Linked DNA regions of Homo sapiens: region 2 is linked to region 1. Evidence: fine-mapped expression QTL. Tissue or cell type: Th17 cells. Region 1 holds a variant in brackets; the other region holds the start of a gene. All regions are shown on one strand. Distances are between the middles of the regions.

Region 1 (8,377 bases):
ACAGATGGTTTCAATGAAAAATTCTACCAAATATTTAAAGATGAATTAATACCAATTCCATACTATCTCCTGCAGATAATAGAAGAGGATGATACACTTTGTAATTCATTTTATGAAGGTGCTTTATCTCTAATACCAAATCAGACAGACACTACATAAGAAAGAAAATGACAGACCAGTATCACTGATGAATACAGACAAATCCTTAACAAAATATTATCAGATACAATTAAACAATGTGTAAAAAGAATTATGCACCCTGATCAAATGTGATTTATTCCAGATATTCAACACTGATTCAATATTTGAGTATTAGTCAATGTTGTCTGCCATATCAACAGGCTAGAGAAGAAAACTCACATGATTATATTGACTGATGAGGAAAAAGCATTTGACAAAATTCCAACACCCATTTAGAACAAAACTCTCAGAAAAAAAAAAAAAAAGAGAAAACAAATAGAGTGGAACTTCCTCCTCTTAATACAGAGCATCAGCAAAATACCTACAGCAAACATTATACTTAGTGAGATTGAATCCTCTCCCTCTAAGATCTGAAACAGGGAAGGTTTTCTGCTTATAACATTCATATTCAACACAGTGCTGAAAAGGAAAAATAGAGATCACTGAAATTCTCTTCAAACTGACATAAAACTTTTGTTGAAAATCAGAATAATGAACCAATTTGGCCAAATACAAATTTATATTTTTCATAATCTTTAACCATAAAGTGGAAGTAATGCTAGTTTATTTGATCAATAAATCAGTATAAATTTAGGAAAAACATTCCCAACTAAAATTATTATAGGATTTTATTATACTTAATATTGATAAATTAGATAAGACATAGATGATTTTATTAAAACAAAAATATTAAATTAGTCTTGTTTGCCAAAGATTCACCTACACTTTGTGAACATGGCTTCTCTACTTGTTAGTTTCAGTAAGAATACTTTTCTTTTAGATTTTAGCACGTTTAAATTATTAGAAGTTTATTATTTTCTGGGAATTTTTGGAATACTCAATCCATGTAAGTATCTTTATTAGTCAATCAGAACAGGCCCCTTTAAGAGTTTGTAATTGAACTTATTGATTACATCCTGAGATGGAAAACATTACGCACTCACAAAAGGAAAGTAAAATTTTTTCTGAATTATAGACACGTATATAGACAGAGATAGATAGCACTTAGAGTTTTAATTCTAAAATTTCAGCCATTGGTCAAGAGTAAATACAATATCAAAATAACTTTCCAGTTCAGATACTAAAGAGCTGTTCTTCCTGATAGACAGGAAATTCTTAATTGATTTAAGCCCTAAATAGATAAATTGACAAACCAAAAGACTAACAAATCCAACACTTTGTTGTCTCTCACTCAGCAGAGAATAGATCTTTATTAGCCACAAATTCTTCTACAGAAATCAAATGGTCAGATCATAAAAATCAAATTGCCAGTTATTGCTGCCACTAATGGGAAATAACTTATCAGCTGCAAAAGAACAAAAAAAACCCATAAAATTAGTAGAGAAGAAAACTAAAAATAGAAAAACATCATCAGCAAATTTATATTGCTGCTTTGGATTTACTTCTGGAAGCCAAGACATGCTGGGCTTAAACTACCCATGAGATGCACTTCTCTGGTGACAGTTTACCTGGTGATATGGTTTGGCTGTATCCCCACCCAAATCTGCTCTTGAATTGTAATCCCCATAATCCCTTCATGTCTAGGGAGAGACCTGGTGGGAGGTGACTGGCACATGGGGGCAGTTCCCCCATGCTGTTCTTGTGATAGCAAGTGAGTTCTCACAAGACCTGATGGTTTTTATAAGGGGCTCTTTCCCCTTCGCTCCTCTCTCTCTCACCTGCTGCCATGTAAGATGTGCCTTTTCCTGTTCCACCATGATTGTAAGTTTCATGAGGCCTCTCCAGCCATTCAGAACTGTGAGTCAATTAAACCTTTCCTTTATAAATTACCCAGTCTCCGGTATTTCTTTATAGCAGTGTGAAAACAGACTAATACACCTGGTCTTGTTAAGTGAATCCAGTGGACATGTTTGTGGAAAACTCCCAAAACTGTTAAAAGAAATTTTTTAAAAAAGTAAAAGCATGATTCTCATACATACATAAAAAAGAACACTTGTTAAAGATTTTATTTAACTCACTAATACGGAAGTTAGTGAGGTGTTAACAACAGTTTAAAGATTAAAAATGGAAAAACAAATTTATATTGGGTAAAGAAAAGTTGAAATTAATGTGGAAGTGGAGGTAAAATTATCTTCTTCCACACTAGGGGAAGGAAGTCAGTTTACCTTCTAATGCATAGGACAACACTTGCGTATGTACAGACGAGAATTATTTTGCACTTGTATAAGTTATTTACAATTTACAGAGTTGTAAAATAGCTCACATAGAGTCAGAAAACCCAAAAGTCTGTCTTCTGGAGTCAAGACAGTTCATGATTTTCTATTTAAGCCCATGTTTTCCCCTATGTGCTATTGTTTTAGTTTTATTGTAAATAATTCTCATTTGGACTTGTAAGTAACCTACTAGTTAATTTGTCTTTATTTTACACTAAGTAAAAGAACTGAAATTCAACCCATATGCAAGCTGGTAACCACTGCAGCATATATTTTTGTCATTCTGCATCTCTCCAGAATAGCTTTCTTTGCTTTCTCTTGGTTTCTCTGCTTCTAAGTAAGTGCATTGTGTTTAGTCTGTTCCAACTCCAACTGGCTGTGCATTATAGTACCTCATAGATAACAACCAGTGTTTCAATTACAAATCTCAAGGTCCAGAGACAGATCAGTTCAGTTTAGGTCAGGTGCCAATCCCAGATTCGTTAGGTATGAATAGGGATCAGGCCACTAGATATAAACATGGCTACCTAGGCCACCTCTTGAGCAGCAACCGAGAATGGAGGCTCTCTTAGAAAGAAGAGTAAATTAGTGCAAAGAATTGACTGGAATCTCTAGCATATGTTTATGGTCTATTTATGTTGCAGAAAAGTAAACTATCTTTGATAGAAAAATCTATTAATGTTCCCATTCAAGCATTATGATCCTTTTAATTTTCATTCATGGTTCAATTTTTATCCAAGTTGCCAATTCTAAGCCCAGTTGCACTTGAAATTGAGTTATTCAGTTAAAATGTATTTGAAGTATGTTTTTTTGAGAGCTGGAGATTAATTTTGGCCTTTTGAAAATTTGATTCTTAACACTTGTAGGTATATAATTATTATTCTATAATAACTCATTATGAAAGATGGTATGGACTTAGTATCTTATAAATTCAAAGAAACTTTTTTTAGTTTCTGATTCATCTCAAAGTACCTGGTGTTGAACTTAATCTTCTCTGAATGGTAAGTGCTCCAGAACGCATGTAAGGAGGAAGCCCTGTAACTCTGTCACTGGTCAGAAGGCCCACTGAGTTGTGTTCTGAAAAAGAGTGCACTTTTGGTTTTGCCCTATCAATATAGGCCACTTCAGGGTCTTCATTAGTGGAAAGAAGTGGAGATTTTGTAAGTCTCGCTTTCAGACACAAAAGAGAAGAATGTTAAGTCAATGGAATTTTCCACTTATTATTTTGTAAGAGAATCAGGAATTACAGAACAGAGACCTTGACAGTAAGAACTGTGTAAGACTGTAAGCTTTGCAGCTTGCTCTTGCTTGTCATTTTTGTCACAGCTTGCTGAACATTTCAAACCTAAATTCCTTATCACTGAATTTTCTTTTATTACAGTTCTTTCAGTAATAAGAATTGGTGAATCATGATATCTGGAAGTAAACTGAATTTTAATTCTAGATTTATAATTGAACTCACAATGAAGTTACTTATGGACCTGCAATTACCTTTATATAACGAGTATATCTTATGCACTTTGATTCTAAACCAGAACCTATGGTAGAGATTGCAATAATATAATTTAGCTATTTTGTGTTTTATTTACATATTGTGTTTGTGTCCCCACAGAAACAGACACCAAGACAGGGTCAAGCATGCGAGATATTTACTGGAGGGACTAACTGTGAAGAATAAAGGGGCCAGGCATAGTGGCTTATGCCTGAAATCCCAGAACTTTGGGAGGCCGAGGTGGGTGGATCACAAGGTCAGGAGATCGAGACCATCCTGGCTAACACAGTGAAACCCCATCTCTACTAAAAATACAAAAAATTAGCCAGGCGTGGTGGCGGGTGACTGTAGTCCCAGCTACTCGGGAGGCTGAGGCAGGAGAATGGCATGAACCCAGGAGGCAGAGCTTGTAATGAGCCAAGATCGCACCACTGCACTCCAGCCTGGGCAATAGAGCGAGACTCCATCTCAAAAAAAAAAAAAAAAATACATGAATAAAAATAAAGGGAGGAAGCATGAGTAAGGAGGGAGTGACTTGAGACAGAGAGGCAGAACTAACATTTGTAAAGACAAGGGAAGGATGGAGGATTATGAAAGAAGAATTTCAGTTTGTAGCAGAGCTCTGAGAAAGTTTTGGCTGGGCTGATGGGGCATCTTTAAGCCAAAGTTGCTCATTAGATGAGTAGTATATTCCATGAGAGTGTTCCTGCACTAGTACCACTGCCTGCTGGGAGTAGCCTGAGAAAAGTTGGCCCTAAGCACAAATATGGAGTAAGTGGGGAGTAGGGATGAGAGGATGGAGGGATGGGGAGGTGGATCCAGAGGGGCTACAGCTGGGGCTGCCATAGTAGATCTGAGTGTCATAGCTTCATGGTCACCACAAGAATATATACACATATTATAGAAAGACAAAGAAGTATACTTTCAACAAATTCATCATCTTTTAAATTTAACAAATTTCAGCTAATTTTACACACACACACACACACACACACAC[T/ACT]ATACAATCTTCAGGGTGAAAAATAAAACATATATTTATCATTGAACCCTGATTTTGGACTCACAGAGATCCCAGGTACTCAGATACAATTTAGATGAAAGAAGATTTGTATTTTGATGATGATAGTGATGATAATGATAATCATAACTAAAGTTTATTAGTTGCATGTAGTGTTTCAAGTTTTTTATGTTTTGACTCATTGGCCCTCACATTAGCCCTTGTGAAGGGGGTAATATTTGTCTCCATTTTGCAGAGAAACAGACATAGAAGATAGAGTGGCTTACATAGTATTATACAGTCAATGTGTGATATGGCAGATTAATTAGACTAAATTGCATAAAAGTAAAAGATGAAACCTGTAGCTCAAGGATGGTAGCTTATTGAGATCGTGGAAATAAATGAAGGTCACCCAAACAAGAACAAACAGGTGCTATTTATTCAGAACTTGTTATATTGAGGGACTTAGCTATCGTCACTTGCTCTTGGCAAAGTAGGACAGTGGTAGAGTGGGAACTGGAAAAGCTTTATAGTATTGTGCTCTGAGTAGAGCTCATTCACATAGAGGAACTGGAGGCAGGCTAAATAAAAATAAGACATCTAGGATGACTGGTTTGGGAAGTATATTTGGCTTTCTCTGGTTGATCCTGAATTGAAAGTTGTCCTGATGCAAAAAATAGGGAAGTAAGCAGTCATTGACCGAGTTGTGACCATACTGAGCTGTTGCTGCAGAGGTTGTGGTATAGCTCCTGCTGTGGTTTGAATGTCTGTGTCTCCTCCAAATTCATATATTGAAATTCTAACTCTCAAGTTAATGGTTTTAGGAGGTAGGGCCATTTGGGAGGTGATTAGGTCATAACACCTCCACAGAATGGGATTAGTTTTCTGATAAAATAGGCCCAAGGGAGCTCGTTTGTCTTTTCTACCATGTGAGGACACAGTGAGAAGGCTCCATTTGTGAACCAGGAAGCAGGCCGTCACCAGGCACTAAATCTGCCAGCACCTGGATCTTGGTTTTCCCAGTCATCAACACTATGATAAATAAATTTCTAGTTTTCTTTTTTTCAGTCTACACAGTTGATGGTATTTTGTTATAGCAGCCCAAAGGGACTAAGATAGTTTCTCCAACTAGTTGCTACAGACATTGTGTGTGACAATTCTGTTGTCGTATAGAGTCAGTTTGTATATTCAGTCCCTCAAGGGGAAAATCACCCAACTTATCTTAATAATTCTGCTGACAATAGTTTGCGTCTATTTAATAGTAATATCAATAAAATGCTATTTAGGTTATCTTAAATGCCAATAAAATTTAACATATTAATGTTTAATTTTTAATAAAACATTTAATAAAAATGTTTAATAAAAAGTATTAAACAATTAAATATATAAATTATATATACACATATATGTGTATATGCTGTACCATTTGTACATATGTATATATGTACAATATATATACAATGTATATACACACATATGTATACATACTATATATGTGTGTATGTATATGTAGTGTATGTAAATACAACAGTGAAGAAGCCTAGTTCCATGAAAACTCAAAAGGTTAGTGCCTCTGCTAGTTCCTATATTAAATTTTACCTGAGAAAGTGTTTTACAATGTGTGATTATGACCAACTGAAAGCTTCAACAACCATTCTCCAGTACTCTCTCAGTTAACTGCGCATCTGGCCATCCTGAATAAAGTCTTCATTTCTCATCCTCGTGCTGCCAGGGGTGGCCATGTATATTAGTCTGTTCTCACACTGCTATAAAGAAATATCTGAGACTGGGTAATTTATAAAGGAAAGCAGTTTAATTGACTCACAGTTCCACATGGCTGGGGAGGCCACAGGAAACTTACAATCATAGTGGAAGGTGAAGAGGAAGCAAGGACCTTCTTCACATGGTGGCAGGAGAGAGAAGTGTGAGTAGTGAAGAGGGAAGAGCCCCTTATAAAACTATCAGATCTTGTGAGAACTCACTCACTATCATGAGAACAGCATGGGAAAGCTAACCCCAAGATCCAGTCACCTCCTACCGGGTTCCTCCCTTGACACATGTGGATTATGGGGATTACAAGTCAATATGAGATTTGGGTGGGGACACAGAGCCAAACCATATCACCATGTGAGTGAAGGATGAGTGCAATTCTTCATGCTTCACTCAGATAAGAAAGAACTTCTATCTGTGTAAGCCACTGCTATTTTGAGCCCCTACTGCATATCACTAAACTACATTCAATAATACCAAGTTTAATTTTTATCCTTTGAATAATGCTAGCCTTTGAGACTGTGATTTTCAAAACTAACTGAGAAAACACTATTTAGAAACAGAGACTCAAAAATGTTTTTATACATACAGCAGGTTCCCTTTAATGGAAAACAAAAGGACATCATTGACACATAAAATTCCTACTTCTCAAGCATCCAACAATTTTCTTTTTAAAATTAATGCTTTATAGATAAATGTGTCTATGTCACCTGTCATAATGGCAAATGTTTGTTTAAAATATATGTAATGTATCATAATTAAAAGGTTCATCAATTCCAAAAGTGACCCGCTGTTTTTGTATATACTGAAATCAAATTGTATTAACACTATATGAAAATATTAAATAATTTTCTATTTCATATATAATTTTAAGTAAAGATTACTTTACTGAGCTAAGTAGGAGAAGCTAAGCACATGGCTGGAAATCACCAATTTTTTAAGTCTTGGAGGAAAAAAAATAGTATAATGGCTTATATTAGCTTGTGAGCTTGTCCTGTGTCTGTGGCTTCTGTGGACTTAGAGATGGGGAAGATTGAGTAGAGGGTAGGTGGAATTTTGAGACTGTCCCTTCCTCTTCTTCAGTAAACGATGGAAAGGTGTTAAATGACCAGTATTAAAGAGAGGAAAAACCATTTTTCAGTTCATTAACAAGGTATTATTACAGATTGGAGCTCTGCTACCAGAAACCTGAAAGAGGAATGAGGCTCTGGAGCAAGCTTGTGCCTCCGTACTATGGATTGGAGCTCCAAGCATGCTGTAGGGTTCCTTGCCCAGCTTCATGCCACATAATTAGAAAGAATATGAAGTAAAAGCTGTGTTTCCAGGTTTTGGTGAGAGAAAAATTCAAGCACCAGAATGAGAAGGGTAAAAATACAGGCTCAGAAGAGAAATTGCTGAAAACCAAGCACATTCACAAGGGCTTATCAACTCTGTTCCAATGCAGAGTGAAGAGGGGACCCAGGAACCTGATTGCACCCTGGGAAATGTGAAGCTCTTTGTGAAATGACTATTAAAATGGCCTGAAGAGGTTGGGTGTGGTGGCTCAAGCCTGTAATCCCAGGACTTTGACAGGCCGAGGAGAGTGGATCCCTTGAGTCCAGGAGTTCTAGACTAGCCTGCGCAACATAGGGAGATCCCCATCTCTACAACAACAACAACAAAAATTAAAAATTAACTGGGCATGGTGGCGTGCACCTTTAGTACCAGCTTTTTGGGAGGTTGAGGCTGGAGGATTGCTTGAGCCCAGGAGTTCAACGTTGCAGTGAG
Region 2 (8,174 bases), 200 kb before region 1:
CCAGGCTGGAGTGCAGTGGCACAATCTCGGCTCACTGCAAGCTCCGCCTCCGGGGTTCACGCCATTCTCCTGCCTCAGCCTCCCAAGTAGCTGGGACTACAGGCGCCCGCCACCACGCCCGGCTAATTTTTGTATTTTTAGTAGAGACGGGGTTTCACCATTTTAGCCAGGATGGTCTCGATCTCCTGACCTCGTGATCCACCTGCCTCAGCCTCTCAAAGTGCTGGGATTACAGGCATGAGCCACCGTGCCCAGCCTGTACCTTGACTTTCAACCACCTTTCTGAAGGCAAGCGAAATAGGATGACTAGTAGTTTGTTGGGAATGTTTTAAAAGTTAATGAATGCAGCATCACTTGTTGACATATGCTAACTGGTTATTCCCATTGGGTATGATGATCTTCTCCTTGCTCCACTGTATGGAGCCTGCCTTTACCAACATCCTATCATGTGTAGAGGCACAGAGAATAATGGTGCCCATCCCGGAGGGCATGGAGAACCTAGCCCAGATTTATGCAAAGAAAGACATGGCCCTGAGATGTAGTTATTGAGGTGGAGCTGCAGCTACTGCATTCTTCAGGTTGGGAGAGACTCACAGAAAATGCAGGCGCCCCACGGAGTCCATATGTAATGGAAGCAAAGGTGGCTTGGCCACTGACAGGCTGTGTGACTTAGTTTAGTTAACTTCTCTTGAAGCTGCAGTCCCCACAGGTTACAAATGGTTTGGATGCCATTTTAATGTTTTGTTTTCCATGTTTTGTTTTGTTTTGTTTTACTTGTAGTCTCCCTGGAGCATGTTCTTCTAAGAGCCCACTGGTGACCCAATTAGAGCAAAGCCTCTAGGCTTTACTGAAGTACATCAATGCTAAACATTTGCAGGCAACCTGATTCAAGGCATTCATGGTGTGACATGTGGGGTTTAAGATCTTTTGTTTCTCCAGCTGGTAGAGAAAAAATAACTTCCACAAAGAAAAGGTTAGATAGCTGGTCTTGGCTCCATTAGTTTGGGGGAATGCGGACTGCTGTTCTAGCGCTTCCTGGTTCATGAGGTGAGAACTTTTCCTGCTTGTTCCCAGTAACTTCTGAAAGCTGGATGTGACTTTTCTAAAAATGGACTCTCTCTCTGCCAAAGCACACTCAGGATATTTGGACACATAGTCTCCCTTCTATGACCTATTTAATGCCATTTATTCTATGTACCTCAGGGCAGAGCCAGTTATTTATGAAGTGTAGCATGACGGAAAGTTGTCCTGAAGTGATGGGGGTATTAAGAAGTCCTTCCCTACAGGACATACTTTTAGTTATAGTGGAATTAACTCGCAAGGTAAAATTTTTCTACTTAACTCCTGTAAGTCTCAGTTTCTTATCTATAATTATAATAATTACTTACATTTATTGAGTGCTTACTGTGTGCCAGGCACTATTCAAAGCATTTTATGTGTAGTAATCTGTTTAATTCTTATGATAGCTGTATGAAGTGGGATCTGTTACTATATATAAATTAGAAATATGACACATAACCAGCTTTCAGGGGTTTTTCACAATGATCCCATAATGTAGGGCTTATGAAAACCTTGGGCATCCTTCCCACTTAATGACAGACTTGATGCAGCTCAGGTTTAAAGAATAAATTTGGATTAATGAGAGAATGAAGTACAATATGGATAGTGAAATTACCCTGTGAAAAGAAAATTTGGGTAATATAAATATTTGGCTAGAAATCAAATTTGAATTTTCTAAACAGAGCTTCCACTGACCTCTAATGAACTGGCATATTCTGAGGAAAGACGAAAGAAGTCATCCTACGCTTGCACTGGTTTCTCCTGCCTGACACCTAAACTGCAAAGTATGTCGATCACTACTTCTGATTCCCTTTCATTTTTCTATTTATTCATTCATTCAATCAATCAATCAATCAACAAATACTTATTACATACCTGCTATGTGCCAGTCCTTGGCATAAGCACTAAGTATCAATGGTGAACATTACATACTCCCTGCTCTCCTGTAGCTTAAAGCCAAACAGGGAAGACAGACACTAATCGACCTGTACATGAATAGATAACTACAGAGATTTTGCAACATGGTTTGAAGAGCATTTGAAAAATGCTTCCTGAAGAAATGAGACTTAGACTGGGAGGTAGAAAAGAAACCAGAAAGGTGTGGCAACATTAACAATATGAGAGATAGTTATAGGAGTTTGCCAGATGGAAGTTACTAATGACCTTAGTGAAAGTTTTTTTGGTGTGTCTAAGGTGGAAACCAGACTGGGAGTGCCCTAAAGAGACAATGAGTGAGAGGTGAAGAAATGGAGACAGTAATGAAATAAAAAACTCTTTTAAGACATTTAATGGTGAAAAAGAGGTGAAGGGAATATATGCTGAAGAGGGAGGGTCAGAGGACAAAAATATAAACATAGTAGTTCAGCTTTCTGTTATCTCAGCTGCCCACATCCATCTCTACTTCCAGTGAAAATAGCATAGAAAAAAAGGTACTTGTCCCAAAGTGAGTGAGTGTGCTTGAAAAAGAACCAAAACTGCACTCCTATAGGAATATTCATTTGGTAACTTTAATATATGCAAACTAATAAAAGTTCTACCATTAAAAACCCATCCTTTGGACAAGGCAGCAGCTTTATAAAATATAATATAATGACTCATTTACAATGAAACTTTACCTGTGTTTCAATTAGAAATATATTTTTAAATAATATTTTTCCAGATACACTGAACTAATACTGTATCATTAGGCTAAACACATATTGATTCAAACTTATTATCTCAAAATTCTGTTATATGAACAAATCTGTGTGCTAATGGGGCACACTAACATTCAACTAAAGTGAATTGTATAGACCCATAGCATTTCACTGGATGATTAAATTAAATGTTTAGAGAGAAAATTAAATCTTTCAAGTCACTAGCAGATTATTCTTGCCCTGAAAATCAGCTGATGCCGTTGCTGCTGTGAATAAAACAGGCATTTGTAACACGGTAAAAAACTAAAAGAATAACATGGGGATAACATTTAAAGATTTCTATTCCCCCTTGAAGCCATTTCTATCAATATAGTTTGTAGACATCTATTTTTACTGTCATCAAAAAGTCTCTCACATTCACATTAATTTTATAAGGAAGCACGTTACTATTACTACTACTTTATTTATAGAAAAAGATTACTCTGCACTGTAACTAAATTGGCTATTTTAAAACTTAAAAAATTAATAGGATTCTGTTAAGTACCTAACACTACATCCATAGTCACCTTCATCTGAAAGCCATGAAGAGACTGATTCCAGGTGTTAAATGATTGAGCCACAGAAATTGATCCAAGTATTCTGCTACTGTTTCCTTTGACATCCTCCCCTCTGGCTACTGTCTACGAAGAAAGTAATTAGAAAACAGCATGTCTAATAAACTAACAGGCAAGTCATTGTTGATCAGATATGGAAACCACATTCTAAGAAAACGAAAGGAAGCCGAGCCGCACACCTGATTTTGTTATGTGAGACCCAATGACAAAAAAAAAAAAAAAAAAAAAAACCCAGATTACAAGCTGTTCAAGTAAGTTTGGGTGCTGATTTTCTTTTTCAAAACCTGAGCAGAAGAAAAACGTCAGGGTTGTTTGGAAGCACCGAATTACAAGATCCTGAATAAGCTGCTTCATCAGACAGACAGCTAGAAAATCCTATTTGCAAAATAGCTCCCACCAGCTTCTTTTATGTCCGAAGTGAGACTCAGTTTTTGGCTAGAAGATACACTCCTGTCAGCGGTAAGGAAGAGGAATGGTGTCTCTCCCCCTTTTCAGAAACACCAATCCCTGGATGAATGGACAACAGGAGCTCAATCTCACAGACGCAGGACTGACCCGAGTACAGTCACCGTCTCTCTCCCAACCCTGAGGGACAATCCCTTTGTGGCACCTGGGGAAGAGAGTATCCAGACAGCTGGTCGGAGTCTGGCAGCGCGGGCAGCAGTGCGGCGGCCACGGCTCCCGGCGAGAAGGTGTGTAAGGTAGGCTGGGTGAAGCGCCCAGGAGCGGAGGGGACAGCGCTGCACCCTCGCTAAGTCTCGCCGCGCTGGGCGCGTATCTGGGGTCCCCAGAAGCCAGCAGAGAGAGACTTGCGACCGGGGCTGAGCAGGAAGTGGGCAGAGCCCCTTCCCCCGCTGCCGTTACCTGCAGCAGCCGAAGCGCAGCCGCTGGCTCTTGCTGGATCCGCAAGTCGGCTACCGACTGGACAGCAGCTACTGCTTCCACTGCCTGCACCTGCCGCTCAGCAGATCCCTCTTTGCACAGGGCACCCCACCCCGGGAATCCCAACGCCAGGAGCCATCCGTGGCCATGGCGGGGGCTTCTCGGCACCCGACTGGGACGCCCCGGCAGCTCCTTGTGGCGCTCGCCTGCCTGCTCTTGAGTCGCCCCGCGCTGCAGGGACGGGCATCCTCACTTGGGACCGAGCCCGACCCGGCGCTTTACCTGCCCGCCCGGGGTGCGCTTGACGGCACTCGCCCCGACGGCCCCAGCGTGCTGATTGCCAACCCTGGACTCCGGGTGCCCCTGGGTCGTTCCCTTTGGCTCGACCCGCTCCGGGATCTGGTGATTGGAGTGCAGCCGGGGGACCGGTGCGAAGTCACGGTACTGGACGCCCTGCCGCGGCTCAAGGGCGCGCTCTCCCCGCGCCGCTTCCCCTGCACCTTCGGGCCCCGCCAAGTCCAGTACACTCACTTCGGCTCCCACAGCCCCGGACGCGCCCGGGTGCTGCTGCAGCTGCGCTACGACGCCCCGACTCACACTCTGGTGCTGCCCTTCACGCTGGCGGTGGACTTGGTCTTCTCCCAGCTGGAGCTGGTGACGCGTAACAGGCCTTTGGTAGTGGAGAAGCTGCGAAGCTGGAGCCGCGCCATAGACAGGAGAGTGCTGGACTTCGCCTCCCTGAAGTCTGGAGCCACGGCCACCCGCAGGTGCCGGCTTACCCCACTTCCTCACGAGGACGGCCCCCTGCCCAAGTACGGGCGCTTGGTGGACGCGGTGGGGGCCCCTCTCCCCAGGGGCAAGGGCGTAGACTGTGAGGCTTTCCTCCGTGCTGGGGTGCGCTATCAGCACACAGCCACCTCCTCGCCCAACCGTGACTACGTGCCCATGATGGTGGAGCTGCTGGGGCCTGAGGGCCAAGACGCTGGGTCCGCGGGTGTGCTGGTCCGCGAGCACTTCCAGCTGCTCGTGAGGATCCGCGGCGGAGCCGAGAACACACCGCCCAGGCCCAGCTTCATGGCCACGATGATGATGGAGGTGGATCCACTGGTGCTGACAGCCCTGACGCCTGACGCACTGGCCGCGGAGGACGTCGAGTCAGACCCTGGTGACCTGGTGTTCAACATTCTGAACGCCCCCACTCACCCACCAGGGCACCCGGGGCAACAGGGCTACGTGGTCAGCACCGACGACCCTCTAGGGCTTCCAGTCTCCTTCTTCACCCAGCAGGAGCTGAGGGAGCTGAAGATTGCCTATCAGCCCCCTGCAGAGAACTCCCATGGGGAGCGCCTCTTTCAGCTGGAGCTGGAGGTGGTGGACGGAGACGGCGCCGCCTCAGACCCCTTTGCCTTCATGGTGACAGTGAAATCCATGAATACTCTGGTCCCAGTGGCTAGCCATAACAGGGGACTTGTGCTTTTTGAAGGTCAGTCAAGGCCCTTGTCCAGCACCCACAGCATTCCTATCAGTGATAAAGATAACCTGGAAGAGGTGAAAATGGCTGCAGTCAGGGGCTTGAGACATGGGCAGCTGGTGGTGTTTGGGGCACCTGCTGGGTGCAAGTATTTCACACCAGCGGACCTGGCAGCAGGGCGAGTGGTGTATCAGCATGATGGCAGCAACACCTACAGTGACAATATCATCTTCCGGATGGAGGACGGGCACCACCAAGTGGACTTCCTCTTTCCCCTCACCATCCTACCTGTGGATGATGAACCACCAATGGTCAATACTAACACAGGACTCTCACTCACTGAAGGGCAGGTGGTCCAGATCTCTCCCTTTGTACTGAGTGCTACTGATATTGACTCTGAGGACTCAACCATCCACTTTGTGCTGGAGAACCAGCCCCTAAAAGGAAATGAGGAAGAGCCTCAGTGGGAGTTGGCCCCTGGTTCCTCCCACTCAGGCCACTACCTGGGGGACCTGTTGCTGCAGCAGGCTGAACTACCTCTCTCAACTGAAGATGAAGACTGGCACTACATGGAAAAGGAAGGGCTTTATGAGAAAGTGGTGACTGAGTGGCTACAGAGAGACATAATGGAAGGGAGACTCTTCTACCGCCATCTTGGACCACACAGCCCTCAATCTGTAATGGTCCAGCTGGCTTTCCATGTGCAGGATGACCATGACCCACCCAATCTCTCCAAACAGCACATTTTCACCATCAAGGTCCAACCAGTGGATATACTGAGTCCACAGCTGTATCCAGGAACTACACTAGAAATGACTGTACAAGAATACCAACTCACTCACTTCCAGAAGAATTTCCTCCGATACATTGACCAGGACTCTGATGACCAGAACCTATGGTACACCCTACTGACACTCCCGACTGACACAGATGGCAACCACCAAGTCCGGGCTGGAGAAATTGTGCTCACTGATTCACCAGACACACTCATCATGCACTTTACCCAAGCCCAGGTAAATCAGCATAAAGTTGCCTACCAGCCTCCACAGAAATTGGGTATTGCACCACGGGTTGTGCAGTTTACTTACCAGGTGGAAGATGCTGCAGGCAATAGCGTGCCAGGCACATTCACATTATTCCTGCAACCTGTGGACAACCAGCCCCCAGAAGTCACCAACAGAGGCTTTGCTATCTTAGAGGGAGGCAGCTTTAACCTCAGCAGTAATGAGCTGCATGTTACAGACCCAGACACAGACATTGACCAAATTGTCTTCATATTAGTCCGGGGTCCCCAACATGGACACTTGCAGTACTTTAAAAGATGTATGGTCCCAGGGGAATCTTTCATGCAAGCTGATGTTATTAACGGGAGTGTCTCTTACCAGCATGGCAGAGACCAGACGACTACCAGTGACACTTTCCATCTGGAAGTAAGTGATGGGGTGCACCATATACCCATCACCATCCCAATTTCTGTGCATCCCAATGTGGCTAACAGAAGTCCTAGGATCTCTCTCAGAAGTAGTTCATTATTGGATGTTTCTATAGACGTACTAGAGAATAAAGCCACTGAAATTACCATGGGTGTCATCCATGGCAAAAGGAAGGATGTAGGTGACTTGATGCTGTCTTTCATTGTAAAGGACAGCCCCAAACTGGGCACTATTCTGGTAAATGGTTTGCCCACAGAACGATTCACCCAAGAGGATCTCATCAATGGGAGAGTAGCCTATGCCCACACTGCAGGTGAAGTTGGTTTTCAAAAGCAGCACGATGCCTTCAGCCTCATCCTCTCCAAAGATTCTTACCAATGGGTAGTGGGGAATAGCATAATAGAGAAAGTACAGGTACAAGTAACTGTGCTGCCTGTGGACAATGTGGGACCCAAGGTCTTCGTCGGGGAGTCCTTCATTGTCTATGAAGGTGAGAAGAACTCCTTGACCTTACAACATCTCCATGTTGAAGATGTGGACACTCATCAAGATGAACTCCTCTGCACAGTGACTAGTCAGCCAGCCTCTGGCTACCTGGAAAAGATTGCATCAGCTCCTGGTTCAAAAATGTCCCAGTCTGGTAGCCCTATCAGTGCTTTCTCCCTCAGAGATATCCAAGTGAGGCATATCAATTATGTACAGAGTATTCACAAGGGAGTAGAGCCACAAGAGGACCAATTCACCTTTTATTGCTCTGATGGCATCAACTTCTCCCCAAATGTCTTCTTCCCTATAATCATCCTACCCACCAATGATGAGCAGCCTAAACTTTTTGCCCATGAGTTTAAGGTACTAGAGGGGATGAGCCTGGTCATAGACACCCAGCTGCTTAATGGAGCAGATGCTGACCTGCCACCAAATGAGCTCCACTTTCAACTCACAGCCCTCCCTCGGCATGGACGAATCATACAGCAGCTGGCTACAGGCAGCCAGCCCATCCACAGCTTCACCCTCAAGGAGATCCAGGAGGCCTCCACCATTGTGTATGAGCATGATGACTCAGAGACAAAAGAGGACA

Which allele goes with the higher level. Positions count from the first base shown, and alleles are read on the strand shown. Sizes are in standard deviations (SD) of each study's normalised expression.
In carriers of allele ACT in region 1, the expression in Th17 cells of the gene that starts at base 4,340 in region 2 tends to be higher than with T alone (large effect, 1.0 SD a copy in Schmiedel 2018).

What was found. PIP is the estimated chance that this variant, and not a neighbour inherited with it, causes the effect.
Region 2: it holds the start of FREM3, and the variant in region 1 is fine-mapped to the expression of FREM3 in Th17 cells (Schmiedel 2018, PIP 0.95).

The regions. Positions count from the first base shown.
Region 1 is chr4:143,499,601-143,507,977 of GRCh38, reverse strand. No RefSeq gene overlaps it. Among named protein-coding and RNA genes, the nearest start is that of SMARCA5, 9.9 kb to the left of the region's middle. The variant T/ACT (reference allele first, on the strand shown) is at 4,844.
Region 2 is chr4:143,696,841-143,705,014 of GRCh38, reverse strand. FREM3 (FRAS1 related extracellular matrix 3) reads left to right here and starts at 4,340. Exons shown (of 8, transcript NM_001168235.2): 1 at 4,340-8,174. The coding sequence starts at 4,340. RefSeq lists an enhancer at 4,316-4,973.